3 separate regions of the Homo sapiens genome follow, and regions 1 and 2 are each linked to region 3. The links come from fine-mapping of genetic effects on gene expression. A gene starts in region 3. Each other region holds a variant in brackets. All regions are shown on one strand. Distances are between the middles of the regions. Region 1 holds the start of LOC105377402 (a long non-coding RNA gene). Region 2 overlaps ANXA5 (annexin A5). Region 3 holds the start of ANXA5 (annexin A5).

Region 1 (6,140 bases), 48 kb after region 3:
CAATGTTTTGCAGACATAAACCAAAAACTCCACAGAAGACTAAGGCCATGGTATTTTCATTTCTCCTTCTTTAAAACAAAAAACCTAAGCAAACAATGATTATAACAGCTAGAGCCACGTAGAATTTTAGAGTTCATAAGAACTTCAAGAAATTACAGATAATCACTGCTACTGAGGATCATCTCTTTTTGTGGAGAAGAGTAATCTCTGCTTAAGAGCTTAAAGTAATTTCAGTCTAATGGAGCAGCCTCCCCTGTGGGCCTCCTAAATACCTTGCCAGACTGGGCTGGACTGGATTACCTACATTAAGTGTAAACTTATGTCAGGAAGACAAAAGGGAAAAAAGGGGGAGAAAACGAAGAGATGTTGATTCAGCTTCAATAAACTTTCATATAAATTTATATCTAAAAATTTAGAACAAAATTATTTCCTTTTTTTTGAGACAGGGTCTTACTTTGTTACCCAGACTGGAGTGCAGGGGTCCAATCACGGCTCACCACAGCCTTGACCTCCCAGGCTCAAGTGATCCTCTTGCCTCAGCCTCCCGAGTAGCTTGGACTACAGGTGTGTACCATCACGCTCAGCTAATTTTTGTATTTTTTGTAGAGACGAGGTTGCCCAGGCTGGCCTCGAATTCCTAGGCTCAAGTGATCCCCCAGTCTTGACCTCCCAAAGTGCTAGGATCACAGGCATGAGCCACCACGGCTGGCCTGAATGAAATGGTTTTTCTTACTGTGTAGTTAAGCTTGTATCATTTCAAAATATTAAATTGTGTTTTTCAGTACATATTGGCTGGGAATGCCCACCAAAATCTTTTTAGTGTTTAGGGTGTTAAAGGTCTATATCTACCCTGGGGAAGTGCAGATCAGGGTTTTGGTTGGAGGATCCTGGATGGCGGGATGCATCTGAGTTAGGTGGGTCTTAGGGAAAGGGATGCTGGAATGGGAAACCCCAGGGTTCAGTAGGGGGATGTGGATGGGGTGTTCTGGCAATCATTATGCTAATATGGGTGCTATACAGAAATACCTAATATATCTCACTAGAGTACTGATAAAGAGTATGGCTCTCAAGCCAGACCAACTGAGTTAGAATCCCTTCTCTACCAATTACCAGCTCTATGACTGAGCAGTTTACTTGATTTCTCTGATGTTTTCCTCATGTATAAAATGAAGATAATATTGTTGCACTTCATTGAGAACTAACATGAGTTAATAATTGTGAAGGCACACCTGGACAGAGGAAATGCTCAAGCATGGACATTTTTATATCCCCAGCTTCCAGTGCTATGGCTGGCATGTAGAAAGCATGTGACAAACATTTGCTGAATAATAAATGTGGGACTGCCTGTGAGATGAATGAAGCAGACCATTCCTGAGTAGTTAATGAATGATGCTGAGAAGATCCTGATTCTAGTGGCTCTTTATTAAAATATAATCTTAAGTAAAATGACTAGTTTTATGTTATCAATGTGTATTGCTAGGTTCTGTTTTTATATATGTGAAAGCATCATTATTATTACTTTCTTGTTTTTTCTTTTGTTGTTGCTGCTGCTGAATCCTCACCAGGAAGGAATTAAGATCTCGTTTCCTCACTGAAATCCAGAAAGAAAAGGTTGGTGTTGTGTTCCCTTAGGTTTGAGCCGTGAGAAGCGTCTCTGGTTCATGAGTTTTGGGTGGTAGGAGTGGAAGTAGGATGAGGGGATTATGTAGTATTACCCCTGAGCAGGAAGGCAGGCTTTGAGTAGAGAAGGTGAGGTAGAGCCCTAAGGTTGAGATGGCAGGGAGAGTACAGAGGGGCCCTTTCTGTGGGATTGGTTTGTATTCCAGTCCCAGTTCCCATGAAGTACCCTGGAAGATGGCAAGGTCTTTGATGTGGTCACTGATTTGGGCAGTAGGGACTGAGGAATGGGAGTGTTCTGGAGCTGCTCCTTCAAGTGAATCATCTAAACTTGTATCTTTTCAGAGAGCAAAGATGAACTGGTTACCTTAGAAGCCCTTTATATATATATATAACGAGATTGTGTAAGCTCCACCAATTTCTTTTGTGATATCGAGGAAGGGGGGGTGACTCACAAAGCATGATAAAGTTTGGGGAAATATTTTATTAATATGAAAGATGAGGAATTTAGATTCTGACATGATGTGATTTTTAAAAAGAGATAATAGCATGAAATGTCTTCATCTTAGTGTTGTGGGGCAAATTTGAAGCATCTGTAGTGTACAGTTTAGCAGCTAATTAGCTGAAGCTAATTAAAAGGAAGATACCTAAAATTAATTTTTGATGATAGACATTGCTCTGTAAATTTGGAGCTTTAAGGTGTGTATTCACAGATTATTTTCTCTTTAGGAACAGGATTGCTAAATTTGTGTAGGTTATTATTGAGGCACAGGCAGCCTAAAACATGCCATAGTGATTTGAACAGTCCACTGTAGTGACTTGCTGTGTGGTTCACTTAAGAGGCAGCTCTACAACATTCCCCATCCCCTATTGCTTTCCATCAGCCACTGCGTCAAAGGCCTTGCCACATTCCAGGCACCTCATGGGACTTGGAAACGGGATGCAGGCCCAAAATCATCGAGAAGGAATCTCTCTACTGCCCTTCTATGGCCCCACCTCACTTTCCTCTACTCAAAACATGTAAATACATGGCCTTGATATTTAAAATATGAAAAAATTTATTATGACATTAGCTAAATATAAATGACTAAGTTTCAATTTCTATATTTATAAGAGATATAAGTTAGAGATGAGAAGATGTAGGCCCCATTACATATGTAAAAAAAAAAAGATCCTGTGTGCATTCAATGATTGATTGTTGAATGAATGCACCATAGTCCCTATGTGTTTTATACAGCCTCTGTATATAAAACACTTACAGCAAGCATGAGATAGTGTGATGAGCATGGCCTTTGCCATCAGAGGAACTCAGATTTAAATTCTGACTCTTCCCTCTTGGGCAAATCACTTGTCTTTAATTGGGAAAATCACTTATTTTCAAGATGGTACTAATAAGAACTTCTGCATAAAATTGCTATAATGATTAAACAGGGAAACATAAGTAACACATCTAACAAAGCACCTAGAATATAGTAATTATTCAATAAATATTTTGTGATAGTTAAGATAAACAATTCCAGCTGCTGTTAATATCTAAATCCAGAATTCTCAGACACTTAACCTTATCAAATCTATTCCTCACTCATTTCAGTGTGAGTATTTCTGGATGGGAGGAATTTTATGTGATCATTTAGGGAATTTCATGTAATCATTTAGGGACTAAGTCTCCTTTCTTTTTATGGCTCTGTCCTCTATGTCCTTAGAATTTTCTCCATTTAGCCTATAGATGGAGAAAGTAGGGTGATGTATGGGAAGTTTT[G/T]TTGGCATGCACCACTTCTCCCCATTTTCCATTAGCTAGAACTCTGTTATAGACACAAATGTAAGGGAGACTAGTTAATGTAATTTTGTTGTGTGCTTAGAAGAGAACGTGTGTTTGGTGAGCGTCTAGTTAGTTTCGGCCACAGTTTTATTCTCCTTCCTCTTCTATTTTTCTCTTTAAAAATCCAGGGATATTTTTATTTATTATTGTTGAATGCTTTTTCTTTTTGAAGGTCTAATTCATCTAGAATTTCTTATACATAAAAAGTCCTTTTTTGGTACCTGACCAAGTAGTGATCAAGGTTTGTATCAAAACCCTTGAAGGAGATGAGAGAGGGGAGGAGAGAGAGGGAACAACATGCAAGCATATTTAGTGCTTGTAAGGATGAGGTGAAATAGGCACTCTCATTTCTTCCTCATGAAAGAATAAATGAGTCCAACCCTTCTGCAGGGAAATTTGATTTAAAATATTTATACTGCTTGACATGGTAATTCTAGTTTTTGGAAATGACCTAAGGAAATGCTTTGAAATGCAGATATAAATCTGTGTAAAAAATGTTCACTATAACATTATTCATAGTAACAAATAATTGAAGACAATCTAAATGAAAACCCTAGGGAAATGGTTAAATAAATTATAGTATGTACACATAATGAAGTGTTATACAGCTGTTAGAGATAATCTTTAGGAATAGAATTTAACAACACAAAAACGCTTATGCTAAAATGTTAAGTGATGAAAATAGAATATACAGTTTTAAAGACAGTGTAATTCTACCATGGACAGAAAATATTCAAGAAAAATATTGGATATAACCCATGTCTATATCTAGAGTAGAATGGATAAATTAAATTATTACATATCATTTAATGGAATATTCAGCAATGAAATAAACTCCAGCTCCACCAAATAATGTGAATAAATCTTGCATATACATTGTTGAGTGAAAAAAGAATCAAGATATAAAATACATATATTATGATTTAATTTATATAAACTTTAAAGAAGAGACAAAATTAAAATAATAATTTTAGTAACACATGCTTATTTGATAAAATTATAATGAAAAACAAACAAGTAACTAGTAAATCTTTAGCAAGTCTAAGAATTTCCATGAGATTTTTGAAAACCTTTAAGGAGAAACATATAAATAAAACATGGAATTTTCTGCTACTCAAGCAGGTGTGGGGTGAGAGCATCAGTGTTTGGAGTACTAATGTAAAGGTGACCTCATTTGTTCATGCAGCCTGGTAAAACCTGGAACACACAGTTCCACAATCTACTGGTTTATAGTCTTTGGTAGCAAGTAGCAGAAATAAACTCAGGTACTTTGTATAAAAAAGAAATTGATCGTGAGTATATTGGATATATCACTTGGTTTTATTTAACCCCAAAGTAAACAAAAACACAATTACATCTGGCTTAAATAATATGGACCTTCATTATCTCAAGTAACAAGAAGCCCAGAGGTCCCAGAGTTGGCTAATTCAGTAGCTCAATCAGAGACTCAGGTACCTTTTGTCTAGCTGTTCTCTCTAACCACAGCCTGTTGGCGAGTCTCTCCTTGTGGCTTTAAGATGCCTCTAGGTGTTCCAGGAATCATGTGCAGATATGACGATATCCAGATAAGGGGGGAAGGGGATGATAAAAAGCTTGGGTGATACAAAGTTGACTTTATCCCAAGCTCTGTAGCGTACCTGTGCATAAACCAATCAGTGGTAAGGAGAATGAGACTCTTCATACCTGGCTTTAACTTCACTGCCTTGGGTCTGGGAAGGGGCCCAGTGACTCCTAGACAAATGACCAATTAGGGCTTCTGTTATCAAGGAAGAGGTAGGGAAGAAAATGACTGTTGGATGAACAACCAACACTGATTCATCTCAAAGAATTAGGGGAAATAACAACTAAATCTTGAGTATGATGGAAAACAGCTGAGTATATTTTGGGAACTTAGCAGCAGGAATACATGAATTTTTCATCCCTTATGTGTTGCCATTACTATAACTCCATTCCAACAATTCCCTGTCTCTGTCTTTCAGTTCAAAATTTCAAATATTGGAAATGACAGTATTTGAGTGGTCCAGCTTGTGTTAGCTGACCATTCCTGCATCAATAAGCTATAGCTGTGCAGTAAAGTTACTAAGAACAGTCATGGCTGTTGGATACCCACCTCCATAGGTAGCCATCAAAGAGGTGTTTACTGTATTCACCTTCCTGATTATCTGGTGAAGAGGAAGGTGAGAAGGGTATCCATTTCATGTTTTAATAATTATCTTATTTTTGTTTAGACTTCATTATCCCCATATTCTGGTAATTTCATCTTTGACACTGTATTTGACACAAAGAAAGTGTCCTTGACACAAAGAAAGAAACTTGTTTAAGGTAGGTAAACTAGTTTAACTATCTTAAAAGAAACTAATAGTAACCATGAGTTCTGACCAATACACATCTTGTGTTTCATTCTGTCAATGCATAAGAAAATAAAGTATGAAATAGTTGTGATACCAAACATATGGATGAAAGTCCTAGTAAGAAGCACCACCATACCTGGATAATTTTGGTATTTTTAGTAGATACAGGGTTTCACCATGTTGCCCAGGCTGGTCTCAAACTCCTGGCCTTAAGTGATCTGCCGGCTTCGGCCTCCCAAAGTGCTGGGATTACAGGCATGAGCCACTGCACCCCGCCTAAGAAAGCAGTTTAATTCTTCCACTGCTAACTCTATTAAGGAAATAGCACCATACACTTTAGCCAATGCAAATGT
Region 2 (6,140 bases), 21 kb after region 3:
ATTTGAAAGAAAGCAAAACAGAGTTTAAGCTTATGATTGATTGTGTTTTGGAGACTTTCCAGTACCATCATGTATCTATAGATTAATGACTACATTGGTCGAGAGAATTTCTAAATGGCTGAGTCTTGATTTAAGTTTGAATTGAGTGCCTTTGGGAGACTTTAATTCATTTTTGTCCAACCACTCACTGAAAGCATTTGCTTAGAGCATTCAGAGATGGAATAGAGGGAATTTATGTTAACCAAATATAATTATTTCTTCTTTTACATCGCTTTCATTTGATTAATGGGGCAAGATTACTTTTCTAGTTGAAAGAAGATGTAAATAAGTATGAAATTATTTTGTTGCAGAATATGGCTCAAGCCTGGAAGATGACGTGGTGGGGGACACTTCAGGGTACTACCAGCGGATGTTGGTGGTTCTCCTTCAGGTATTGCGTGGAGATTAATTACAGTTTGATTAAAAAGCCTGAAGTTGGACTGGGCTGAATCTAGTTAAGTAAGGTCACTTAAAATTCTTTTAATAATTTGTGGTACTTGCTGATTCTTACTGCGATGATTCTGACTGTATGTTGCCTGTGCTTGTTTGTGTTTCAGAATATCTGGTCTAAATTCTTAACAGCTAACTCATACATGTTTTAGATAGTAGTATCTTGTTCCTTTCATAGAATGATAGCGGTATCTTGTTCTTTCATAGAATTTAAAATCAGTAGGGTCATTATTGGTTTTGGACAGTGCTGGGTGATGATAACGTGAAATAGTGCAGGATTGATCTTAATAAAAGCATATTATTCCTAGAGAAAGAGTGTTATTGAATAACCATCAGGTGGAACCATTTTTCCTTTTGAATGAGAATGCTCTATAGTTCAGTAATGTGACATATTACCTCTCATAGGCTAACAGAGACCCTGATGCTGGAATTGATGAAGCTCAAGTTGAACAAGATGCTCAGGTGAGTGACACCAGGATATGATGACTTTATTATGCTGTAGAAATGAAGAAATAATTCATGGTAATGAAAAATCACAATGTATGTTGTAATAGCTTCTAGTGATAATCTTGTTAATGGGTTATTTACATAGCATAAGACCTACATAAGTAGCTTTTTCTTATTCTGACCTGGTCAGCAAAATATTTTACCTTAAAGCTGAAACGAAATAAAATAAATTATATAGTGAGTTCCAACTAGACATGTTTTTTTTTGTGATTATTGAACATTCACAAAATAGAGAATTTTACCAAAAAACAGTGTTATTACTTCCACTGCCAATTATGCAGTGGGTCTCTTAGCAGGAGAAGATAAAGAAGAAAGAATAAAGTATTTAACAGTAAGTGGTGTTTAATTACATAAGAGATGACAAGTTATTTTGGTATTAGGAAATTTCTCTGCATTTCCTTCGACAGAATTTTAAGTAGGATTGGTCTTCTGTCAGCAGCTTTTTAGTGACTCCAAATGAAAATTTCCTCTTAAGTGACTTATAAACCCCTATAAAGTCTCAGTCTGGTTAATAAAACAGTTATTAAAATATAGGAAAGGAAATTTGAAACATGAGAGCTGAAAACTGGAAATTGGTAATAAAGGAATTACTTGGGTTCCTAGAACCACCAATCATAGACCTCTTTCTGGTCACATGTTTCAATTAAGAGAATATACAATTCTTGGTTGTTTGTCATGTATCATTGAAAAAGGAAGAGCCATATTCATTCCTCCAGTGGAACAACCCATGGATATGCGATCTCACTTTGCTAACAGGAAAGAGGAGAGCGGTTATTCTTTTGGGTAGGTTGATTTTATAATGGTTTCAGAATGCTGTCATCTCTGTCTAGCTGGAGAGAAAAAAAGAACTGAATGTTTACCGAGGGCTCTCTGTGCAGTATTTGACTCTTGCTTCACTCTGTCTTAGAAAATGCAAGCCAATTGTGTCCAGCCCCTTCAGACTCTGGTGGTTCCATTGCCCTCAGGATAAAGTCCGGGTTCCTGAATGGGTTACAAGCCCCTTTGTTATCTGTGTGTTGTTTACTTATGCCTCCAGCCTCTCTCACATGCTCTCTCTGCCCTCTTGCCCCTCCCACCCCGCTTCACCTGAGTCCTCTTCAAGAGTCAGTCTTCAGCTTAGATACTTTAGAGTTAGGTGCCCCTCACAGGGAAAACCATACCCCCCCCCGCCCCCAGGCTTCCTGTCACAGTTCTTGCCACGTTCTCTGGAAGCCATCTATTTACTTCACTGCCTTCCTGGGCCCCCTGAGCTGTCAGTTCAATTGTATCCTCAGCTTCTGGCATAGAGTAGGTGCTCAGTAAATAACTGATGAATGAATGAGCACATAACTCTACCAGAAAGGGGCAATTTCCCTTTTATGGATAAAGAAACAAACCCATGGCTTCCACTGAATAGCAGTGGAGTTGGAATTCCTAACGAGGCCTGTCTGACTCCAAAGCTCTTTCTCTTTCACTAGAAGATAGTCAGTGTTATTGAATATTAATATTTCACTATAAGAATATTTCACTGTAAGATATTCAGTGTTCTTGAGTATTAGTGCCTTCCCTGATTTTCTCTATCATTAAAGGGCTTATTAAATATCAACTCAAGCATAGATCTAGCTTAATTCCACCTTCTTTCGGGAAGAGGGCTAGAGCAACCCTACAGAGTTGTACTCCTGTTAGGGGCTTTGTTCAGTACTGAGGTGATCTTACTGCTTTCCAAGCATTGGTTGTGGCTTTGCTAGGAGATAGTGCTGATTCTCTCATTCCTACTGTCAAGAGTAGGATAGGAGTTCTGGGAGCTTTTCAGGGTCACAGTGTAAGAAACCAACTCTAGTCCTCTCAGATGTCTGCAGTGAGGCCTGCATTCACAGGCAGAGGGCAGATTTCCCAGCATAGTTGGTGATGTAATGAGAGCATTGCTGCAGCACGAGGCTCCTGAGGGGAAAACAGTACATTTTAACCTTGTTTTCATTGATTTCTGTCCTTGGAGCACTTACTGGATAGCACTGCTGCTCAAACTTTCATGGGCATGTGGCGCACCTGGGACCTTTAATTGCAGATTCTGATTCTATGGGTCTGGGCAGGGGCTGGGAGTCTGGATTTTGAACATGCTCTCAGGTAATGCCTGCATTCTTGGTCCTTTGATTACTGAGGCTGTATAGGTGACACTTACGTGTCATGCAGTGGATATAACCATTCAGAACCCTGAGAGTACATGTGAGACTGTACATGTGAAAACTGCTTTATGGAGTTACTTTAAAGTATCCCTTGAATGGAATCCAAGCTTTTCTTAGCCTTCCAGTGACTAGGAGCAATACAGAACATGTTACACTGGCTATTATTTTTGATTCTTTCAAATGTATTATTATTAATTAATAAACCTGTTGAAAACAAATAATCTTTTGGCATTATAAAAAGGAACACACCAACTTGTACCTCGTAGCAAGGGCAGCTGGACTGTTATCACTAGTGAGAATTTGAGATTTCTTAATTGAGAGTAAGCTGAGACAGCTAAAGGGCTCTTTTATAAGCTTTTGCATTTTTGTCTCTACTGATACCTGGCACTAAGAAGATTTCTATTATTTGAGAGGTTTGATAAGCCATAGTGAGTCATTCACTTGGGAACTGAACGTTTTGTAGATAATCCACTTTTTAACATTTTTAATGTGTTAAATTGA[T/A]TTAATACTTTTAATGCATTAAAACAGATTTACCTTCTTCCCCAGTAAATCCTTGTTTTATTCTTTCTCTGGAGGGAGAGTTGAACTCTTAGAGGAAAGAGGGAGAAGGAGAAGTAATCAGGCACTTTTTACTTTTACTGGGCATTTGCTACTGATTACCTGACACTGTTCAGTGCATTATCTTAGTTATATAATCTCCGTTAATGACTATATACACTGAGGCTGAAGAGGAGATTAAGTAGTTCATCTGAGATCTTGCAGATAGACCACATCTGTTTTGACTCCAAAGACTCATCCTTTGCACTGAACCAGGGCTTATGAAACTGTACTCAGGCTGAACCGTAAAGCTTAGGGAAGGGGTGTAAGGGTCCCTCATCCAGATGGATCCATGAATATTGGGCATCCTCATTTAGGAGAAAGGATACTTAGATTAAAACAAAACTGTTAAATATCATTGTTTTACATGAAGAAGCCATCATTATTATTGCATATGATTACTTAATAATAGTTTTACAGTAGATATTGATCCCAAACATAATTCTCCCAAGAAAATTAAAACATTGTGGTAAAAATAACTGACATCTCACCAATTATTCCCATATAACAGGCTTAACTCCTGTACCTACTAGAGAACATTTCTAGACATTTAAAACAGTTGATAAGAAGTGTGTGCATCAATGTCTGTGATATTGTACAAGATGAGTCCTTTACCCATTTAGGTGTTAATGTATTTGTATATTTTATCTACATGTAGAAACATACCAGAAGTAGTAACTAGCACCCTCAGGAAATTGATATTAAATAGCAACTTTTCTTTTCTTTCCTTTCTCTTTCCCCTTTCTCCTTTTTCCTTTTCTTTCCTTCACCTTTCCTTCCCCTCCCATTTCCTTACCCTCCCCTTTCCTTCCCCTCCCTTCTCCTTCCTATCCCCTCTCCCTCCCCTCCCCTCTCCCTCCCCTCCCTTCTCCTTTCCGCCCCTCTCCCTCCCCTCCCCTCCCCTCCCTCTTCCCCTTTCCTTTCCTTCGTGCCCAGGCTGGAGTGCAGTGCCATGATCTAGGCTCACTGCAACCTCTGCCTCCTGGGTTCAAACAATTCTCTTGCCACAGCCTCCCGGGTAGCTGGGATTACAGGCATCTGCCACCGTGCCTGGATAAGTTTTGTATTTTTAGTAGAGACAGGTTTTGACAGGTTGCCCAGGCTGGTCTTGAACTCCTGGGCTCAAGCGATCCACCTGCCTCAGCGTCCCAAAATGCTGGGATTACAGGCATGAGCCACTATGCCTAGCCTGCAACTTCTATTTTCTTATTTTTGTTCTTTCTTAGTTTTATAAAATTTCTCAATGAACTTGCGTTGTTTTTGTAATTAAATTTTAAAAGTTATTTTAAGAAAGGTCTGTGTCATCATGATATAGTTCTAAAGTTTAGATGCATGCATGACTTTCAGAGTTACTGTCTTTTCAGGTTTTAAGAGCATGTTCACATGGCCAGAATTGATATTATTCATTTTTATCTTTAAAATAATTAATTTTAAAATTGAGCATAAAGATACATGAGTCTCATTTTTTTCTTATTCTCCAGAAATATAATAAAAAATAGATCTTTACCACCATAATCTACATTTTTAAATATACTGTGATCAAAACTTCTATATTCAAGCCTGTTATTATCACTTCCTGTCTTTATTTGGATTGCTGCTTGTGGGTATAAGGCCAACTGCAAGTAGCAGCCTCAGCAAATTGCATTCATCTTGCTTTAATATGTAGACTTAGTTTGAAATGAATAAAAGGATAGTACAGTCATTGTAAAGGTTGATTCTTTGGGTTTTAATAAATTATTCTCACGTCAATAAGTGGATTCAGAGTTAACGTTGATGTTTGTATATAAGCTTATTTTTTTAGGCAGCTATACGTGCACAAGAAAGCATATTTTTTCCCCATGTCAAAAAGGAAGTATGGGCACTCAAACTATTCAACCACTACTTATTGAGTGCTTCTATATGCCAGGCACTGTGCTATACCCACAATCTTTTAAAAATTTATTGTGATCTTTGGAAATATGAAAACATTTTATAGCTAGCCTTGGTTAAATCTCAGTTGTAAAGAGAAAATATGAAGTGTACTTTTACTCATGTGCTATTGAACAGCTATAGAACAAGCAAAACAGAAAAGGCAGACAACTTAGCTTCCAGTTAAATCCTTTCCCAGTCTATACATGGATGTATCAACAGTGAGGTAGTCATAACTTTCTCCTGACCCATACTGTTGCTTCTGAAAGATTGGAGGTTATGGCAGACATTTTGGGAACATGTAACCTTGCACCATTGCCGTGCTTTGTTGCTTGGACCCATGAATCTTCTGTGGCACAGTTCAGTGGCAAGCTCCAAAGGTGCTCCAAACTCAGTGAGCTGAGTTTCAGAGTAGGACACATTAGAAATGAAAACTATTAATACAAGATGATGAATCAAGTGAGTTAAAATTCAGGG
Region 3 (6,140 bases):
TAGCTCCTTCCTCTGAAACTAATTGCATTTTGATTGCATTCTAGGCATTTCTTTCCTGATTTATAGTCTCTCATTGTAGTGTTCATATACATGCTTTATCTATAATATTAAGGTGCAAACTCTTAGGTATGGCCTTTCCACAGGTGCTCAGTGTATAGTTGTCAAATACAATTAAATTGTATCAATTTAGGTTTCTGTTCAAGGCTTCTCAGAAATGGCTTCATATCACCTTTGCAAAATAAGTGTTCCCTTCATTTCCATTCCCTAGCCTTTATTTTCTTTATACCACGCATCACACAGGACATATTAGATACTTGTTTATTGTTTGTTTCCTCCACCAGAATGTATGACCTATGAGGGCAAGGCCTTTGTTTCACTTGCCGTGTTTACCCCAGCACCTAGATCTGTGCCTGGTCCAGAGTAGGAGTTGAATAAACTGATATTACTGGAAGTGAAAGAAATGCTACCTGGAGTATTTCAAGACTCTGAGTCCAATAACTCATCGATTTTGTCAGTATTTAGCTGCAGGACATAGAGCAAGTCACTAACCCATGATGAGTCTCATGTCCCTGTAAAATCAATGATTGTTAAATACAGGATCTCTGAGGTCCTGTTTAACTCCATTAATGTGAGAGTAGAAAGTGAGAGAAGCAAACTGAGTTCAAGTGGATATGGGTGAGAAAAAAGAATGCTCTAGGCAAGACTACAGGTCCTGCTTTTGGTGCAGGGCAGAGAGAAAGTAGAAAAGCTGGAGCAACGGAGACAGATGCTCAGAAAAGGGCTGCCTTCAGATATATTAATACCTGTAAAGAAAACCCGGGGGAGGTGCTGACTTGGGGAGAGCCTGAGGCTGAGTAGACAGCTGGGCTGGTGGAGAGGAGGCTCCCAGAGGAAAGGCAACCCGCCAGTGGGGTGGGGGTGATGGGGTTGGCAAGCTCCACAAATTTTGCAATTTTGCCTCCTTTCCCAGAGAACAACCACTCTGTTGTGACTTTGTCAGGGCTGGAATAGGCATGTGGTTCACACGTGAAAGCGAATGAGAAGTTCTATACAAAGAACCACATTTGCTGTCCATTTAATTTATTCTTCCTCATTCTCAAAGAAGACTAGATCCTCATCTCTTACCCTTAACCTCCACGTTGAGAAGCACTTTGCCCTTCCCATTCTAGCATATGTCTAGAACACTGCATCTAGTGTCGCAAACTTGTCCTCTTGCCCCCTCTGCCCTGGCACCTTCCCTCCCCACACCAGTAAGTCTGAGAAGGTCCCTGTGTCTTCTACTTTTCCTTTTCCAGCATATGGAGACAAAAGTGATTATATCCCGGATGCTAATCCGCCATGTTGACCTTTAATAACCCCAGTCCCATGAATACCTCCTGATTCCTAGGATTTTTTTTTTAAACTGTCCTTAGCATAAGAACATGTCAACCTTGATGCTATTGCCCACATTGTAGGCTATGAAGCATACGGCATTCTCACCTGTTCCGGAGGGCTGCCTTTAATTGTCTTGCACAGAGCAGTATACTCTTTCCTTACGGTATATAAGGCCAGGGTCTGGGGAGTAACAGTGCAGAAATTTATCTGCTTGCCGCCGCCCAAGGCCACGCTTCTGTCTACCACATCCTCCAATAGCACCCCTATTACCTACAGACTGGATTTGTCTGTCTCGTTCTTTGGTTTCTTGACTCCTTCGCGTTTGGGGGCTGCTTTGCATATAAAGCCCTTTCACAGAACACAGCACCATGCTAGTACAATACGCTGTAGATTCTCCCTCCCTCCCCCTCTCTCTCATATACTCATATATTTTATGTTGAACCAATATGAGGCATTGCTCAAATTTAAGTCATATTAAAGTTCTAGGCTAGTTTTGAAAACAGAAACTGATTGGAAGCAGAGGTTTTCAAATAGCCCACATACGCTACTAGAAGGCTGTACATTTAAGAGAGGGCCATCTAGGAAGCAATAATAGGCATTAAAACAACAACAAAACAACAAAACAAAACAGAAACAAAAACAACTTGGGAAACGGCCCTCCTTTCACGTTTTTTCTATCCCATCGACAAAGGCGCGCTGTCCTTAGCTGCGATGATTTTGTCTCGCCTCCAAAAAGACGCCCACGCACTATGTTGAGCACCCAAGTGAGGCTACGGTTCCTGCGGTCACAGAGGGCAGGGAGGCTCAAGCACCTCCAAAACCCCGAGCCCTGGACAGCTCCCCAGGCCCTTCCCGCGGCGCGAGGACAAGAGGTCTCCGGGGCCCTCGGGGGAGCGGCGCCTCCTCCTGGTTCCAGCAGCTCTGCGGCCGCTCCCCACCCAGGCCCGCGAGACCAGCGGGACAGTCCGCGCCGCGGGAGACCAACTGGGACGAGCCGCGACCCACGCAGGCGCGCTGAGGCCGGGGCAGGGGCGGGCCCGGCTGGCGCGGCCGGCCTGCGGTTGGGGCCCTGGCGGGGGTGGGACGGGCCAAGCCGGGCAGGGCCGGGGTGGGGCCGCTGGCGTTTCCGTTGCTTGGATCAGTCTAGGTGCAGCTGCCGGATCCTTCAGCGTCTGCATCTCGGCGTCGCCCCGCGTACCGTCGCCCGGCTCTCCGCCGCTCTCCCGGGGTTTCGGGGCACTTGGGTCCCACAGTCTGGGTGAGTGGTCGCAGCCCGGGGAGGGGGCTCCTTCTGGAGAGGAGAGCGTGGTCGCGGGGCACTGGATTCGCGCGGACGCTCGGCCGAGAGCTGTCCCGGTAGCTGCGAGAGGGCGGGTCGGCCCCGTGGCGGGGCCCTCCGGGCTGTCTGAGCGCCGCCGGGTCCCCGCGGACCTGCGCTTGGGGAGGGCACGAGTTGCAAATGGCGCGCTAAGCCCGAGGTTTCTTCTCTTTTGCAGTCCTGCTTCACCTTCCCCTGACCTGAGTAGTCGCCATGGCACAGGTAAGGCCGTGCGCCCCCCACTGCGCTGGATTTACCCACAACTTTGTATGCTGCGACGAGGGACTTTTAGGATTTGTCTGAGAGCCAAAAAGTTTAGGAGGAAAGGGAACCTGCTTTGGGGACATCGCTTCCACTTTTCTTGTTCCCCCTTTGCTTCCCTGCCCCCGTTTCTGTGTCCCGGTTCTTCCCGCTGAGCGCCCTCCGGAACCAGCACCGACGCCGCCAAGCTGCCTTCGCGCGCAACAGCTGGTGACGTGGCCGGATTTGTGTGCGCTCCCTTTTCATGAGTGAATGTGTAAAAGTGGGCCTTCCCCAAAATCCAGAGAGTAGCTCAAATTAGAACCGGAGCAAGAACAGCTCATCGTGGTCATGTGAGGCGAACGCATTCCCCCCCCACCCCGCCCCCCGACTTCCTTTATTTTTTTTCCGCAAAGTTTTCTGTATTTTAATACTGTGATTGAGCATTGGCTTTTTCCAGTTGCTCAGCCCAGTTTTACTAAAACTGTAGGACGTAGGCTCTGATTTTTTTTTTAATCCAAAAGATTAAACACAAGCGCTGTTTTTCTTAAGCAATGAACTCGTGGAACGAGTTCTCAATTGAATTTGCCTTGGGACTGTTTCAGAAATTGATAATCTACTACAGGCTTTCTTTACTGTTTTTTTTTTTTCCTTTTTTTTTGAGACGGAGTCTCACTCTGTCGCCCAGGCTGGAGTCCAGTGACGTAGTGATCTCGCTCACTACAACCTCTGCCTCCCGGGTTCAAGCAATTCTCGTGTCTCAGCTTTCCAAGTAGCTGGGATTACAGGCGCCCCACCATGCCCAGCTAATTTTGTATTTTTAGTAGAGGCGGGGTTTCACCATGTTGGCCAGGCTGGTCTCAAACTCCTTGCCTCAAGTGATCCTCCCGCCTCGGCCTCAGGACTGTAATCCCACTGCGCCTGGTTTCTTTACTGTTATTAATGTTTATCAAAAATGTAGGAAAGAGAAGATAGTTTAAGGTCTTTAAATATTGACCATGTTATACAGTCTTTTGTGAATAAGATACCAGGGCTTAAAAACTCTAAAACTGATTTCACAGATCTTGTCAATCTAACCGGCTTGTCAGAGTCCAGATAGTTTTTTTTAAACAAGTGTTTTAACTGCTAAAACAATGCTGTCTCTTATTTATAGTTCACTTTTTATCAGATTGACTTATCAAAATTGAAAAAGGTTTCTTGGTCCTTTCCAAGTGAAAATGGGAGGATTAAGATTAGTTGATTACTTTATGAAACTTACACAGTGATCCCATTCTTACCTCCTCTTTTGCACTTAAATGTTACAGTAAACCAATTCTCATATTACTTCAAGTGGAAAGTTTGGTTTAAGTTCTTCTCCATAGAAAGGATACTTTTATGTGGAATTAACTTTCCTGAGTAATATTTTTCCTATCTTGATATGCTGGTGTGGTGATGTACATGAAGATTTAACAAGCATCGAATAATAATTCCCTCTATCTTTGCTCATTTAGCAGTTTCTTGAATCTCTTGTAAGTTCCCCAGTGATGTCTGAGGGTCCATCAATTCCTTTTCATTATGTAGACTGTTTACCCAAATAGTATAAGCGAACATATTTTCCAGTTGTGGACATTAATTTTAATAATTTCAAAGAATGATTAGTATCATAAAGGCCATGTGTATAGAAAACCTAGGAGAATGGTGGTTTGCATATAAAATTATGTACCTGAGCCCTATGACAATATAACACCAAGACTGTTTTCTATCAAAACTACAGTTTTTACTAATCATAAAAGTTACAAGTAATGTTTTAAAAAAGATACAGAGTGTTAAATTTTGTTCTAGTTTTGTTACTATTTTTGGAAATCATGAAAGTAAAACATTTTGTTAAAATATTTAGTATTGGCCAGGCATGGTGGCTCATGCCTGTAATCCTAGCACTTTGGGAGGCTGAGGCACGTGGATCACGAGGTCAGGAGTTCGAGACCAGCCTAACCAACATGGTGAGACCTCGTCTCTTCTAAAAATACAAAAATTAGCTGGGCATGGTGGTGCACAACTGTAATCCCAGCTACTCGGGAGGCTGAGGCAGGAGAATCACTTGAACCCGGGAGGCGGAGGTTGCAGTGAGCTGAGATCGCGCTGCTGCACTCCAGCCTGGGCAACAGTGAGACTACGTCTCAAAAAAAAAGTTTAGTATTAAAGTTGGGTGCGGCGTCTGAGCAGTAAGAATGTCATGAAGGCAAAACTAGGCTACGTAATTGTTCATTAGAAGCTTCATGAACATCAGAATTTTTTTGTTTATTTTTTATTTATTTTTTATTATATATATATTTTTATTATACTTTAAGTTCTAGGGTATGTGTGCACAACATGCAGGTTTGTTACATATGTATACATGGTGCCATGTTGGTGTGCTGCACCCATTAACTCAATATTTACATTAGCTGTATCTCCTAATGCTATCCCTCCCCCCTCCCCCCCGCCCACAATAGGCCCCGGTGTGGGTGTGTGATGTTCCCCTTTCTGTGTCCAAGTGTTCTCATGAACATCAGAATTATCTCTATGGTATATGTTTAAGTTACAAGGTTTGATCAGAAATATTTTCGGTTGGTTTAAAATTATTATAATAATTTAAAAAAGCCCTGTGCCGAGCAAGCAGGATAAATGTAAATAAATAAATTTGAGATGAAACTCCTTCCAGAGGAGCTGACTGGATATTGATTGCATCTTTTCATGCCATTCATTTTTTAAAGTCAAGTCTCTCTGGAGCTAATGTTCACTTTTGGGATCTTAGATCAGGGTTACCTGTTTACCCGTGGCCTGTGCTGCTCCTGGTGATTTCTCTTGGTTCCTTATCTGTTTAACTCTTAAGTTCATTTTGGCTGCTGAGAAAGAACTAGATCAAAAACTACTTGGCTGCTTTGCAAGCCACTGAGCAATTCATTGGCATTCAGCAAACCCTGATTTCCTTATCTAATATCCAGTTCTCCTTGGAAGGCCTACATAGGTGATCAGGCTAGTTACAGGCAGGCAGTCCGGCTTTCTTCTTTTAATGACTTAGAAGTTCAAAATGGTAAAAATATAACAGTGCTTTTACAGCATAGATTCATTCCTGAAATACATTTTATTCATATAACCTTCATACTATTCTAAAATTTCACAAATGCATCTGTTTTTTAAAAATTAGGGCTCCTAAGACCTTTGCTTTAAGTGCTTCTTAGACGCAGTC

Evidence for each region. PIP is the estimated chance that this variant, and not a neighbour inherited with it, causes the effect. A credible set is the group of variants that fine-mapping cannot tell apart.
Region 1: its variant is the best candidate, but not a certain one, in a credible set for the expression of ANXA5 in skeletal muscle (GTEx, PIP 0.83).
Region 2: its variant is the best candidate, but not a certain one, in a credible set for the expression of ANXA5 in whole blood (TOPMed, PIP 0.74).

The regions. Positions count from the first base shown.
Region 1 is chr4:121,645,062-121,651,201 of GRCh38, reverse strand. It overlaps LOC105377402 (a long non-coding RNA gene), which reads left to right and starts at 551. Exons shown (of 3, transcript XR_939167.3): 1 at 551-564; 2 at 1,566-1,611. The variant G/T (reference allele first, on the strand shown) is at 3,377.
Region 2 is chr4:121,672,705-121,678,844 of GRCh38, reverse strand. ANXA5 (annexin A5) reads left to right here. Exons shown (of 13, transcript NM_001154.4): 7 at 351-430; 8 at 895-951. Among named protein-coding and RNA genes, the nearest start is that of ANXA5, 21 kb to the left of the region's middle. The variant T/A (reference allele first, on the strand shown) is at 3,660.
Region 3 is chr4:121,693,355-121,699,494 of GRCh38, reverse strand. It overlaps ANXA5 (annexin A5), which reads left to right and starts at 2,515. Exons shown (of 13, transcript NM_001154.4): 1 at 2,515-2,632; 2 at 2,871-2,914. The coding sequence starts at 2,906. RefSeq lists a silencer at 2,147-2,566.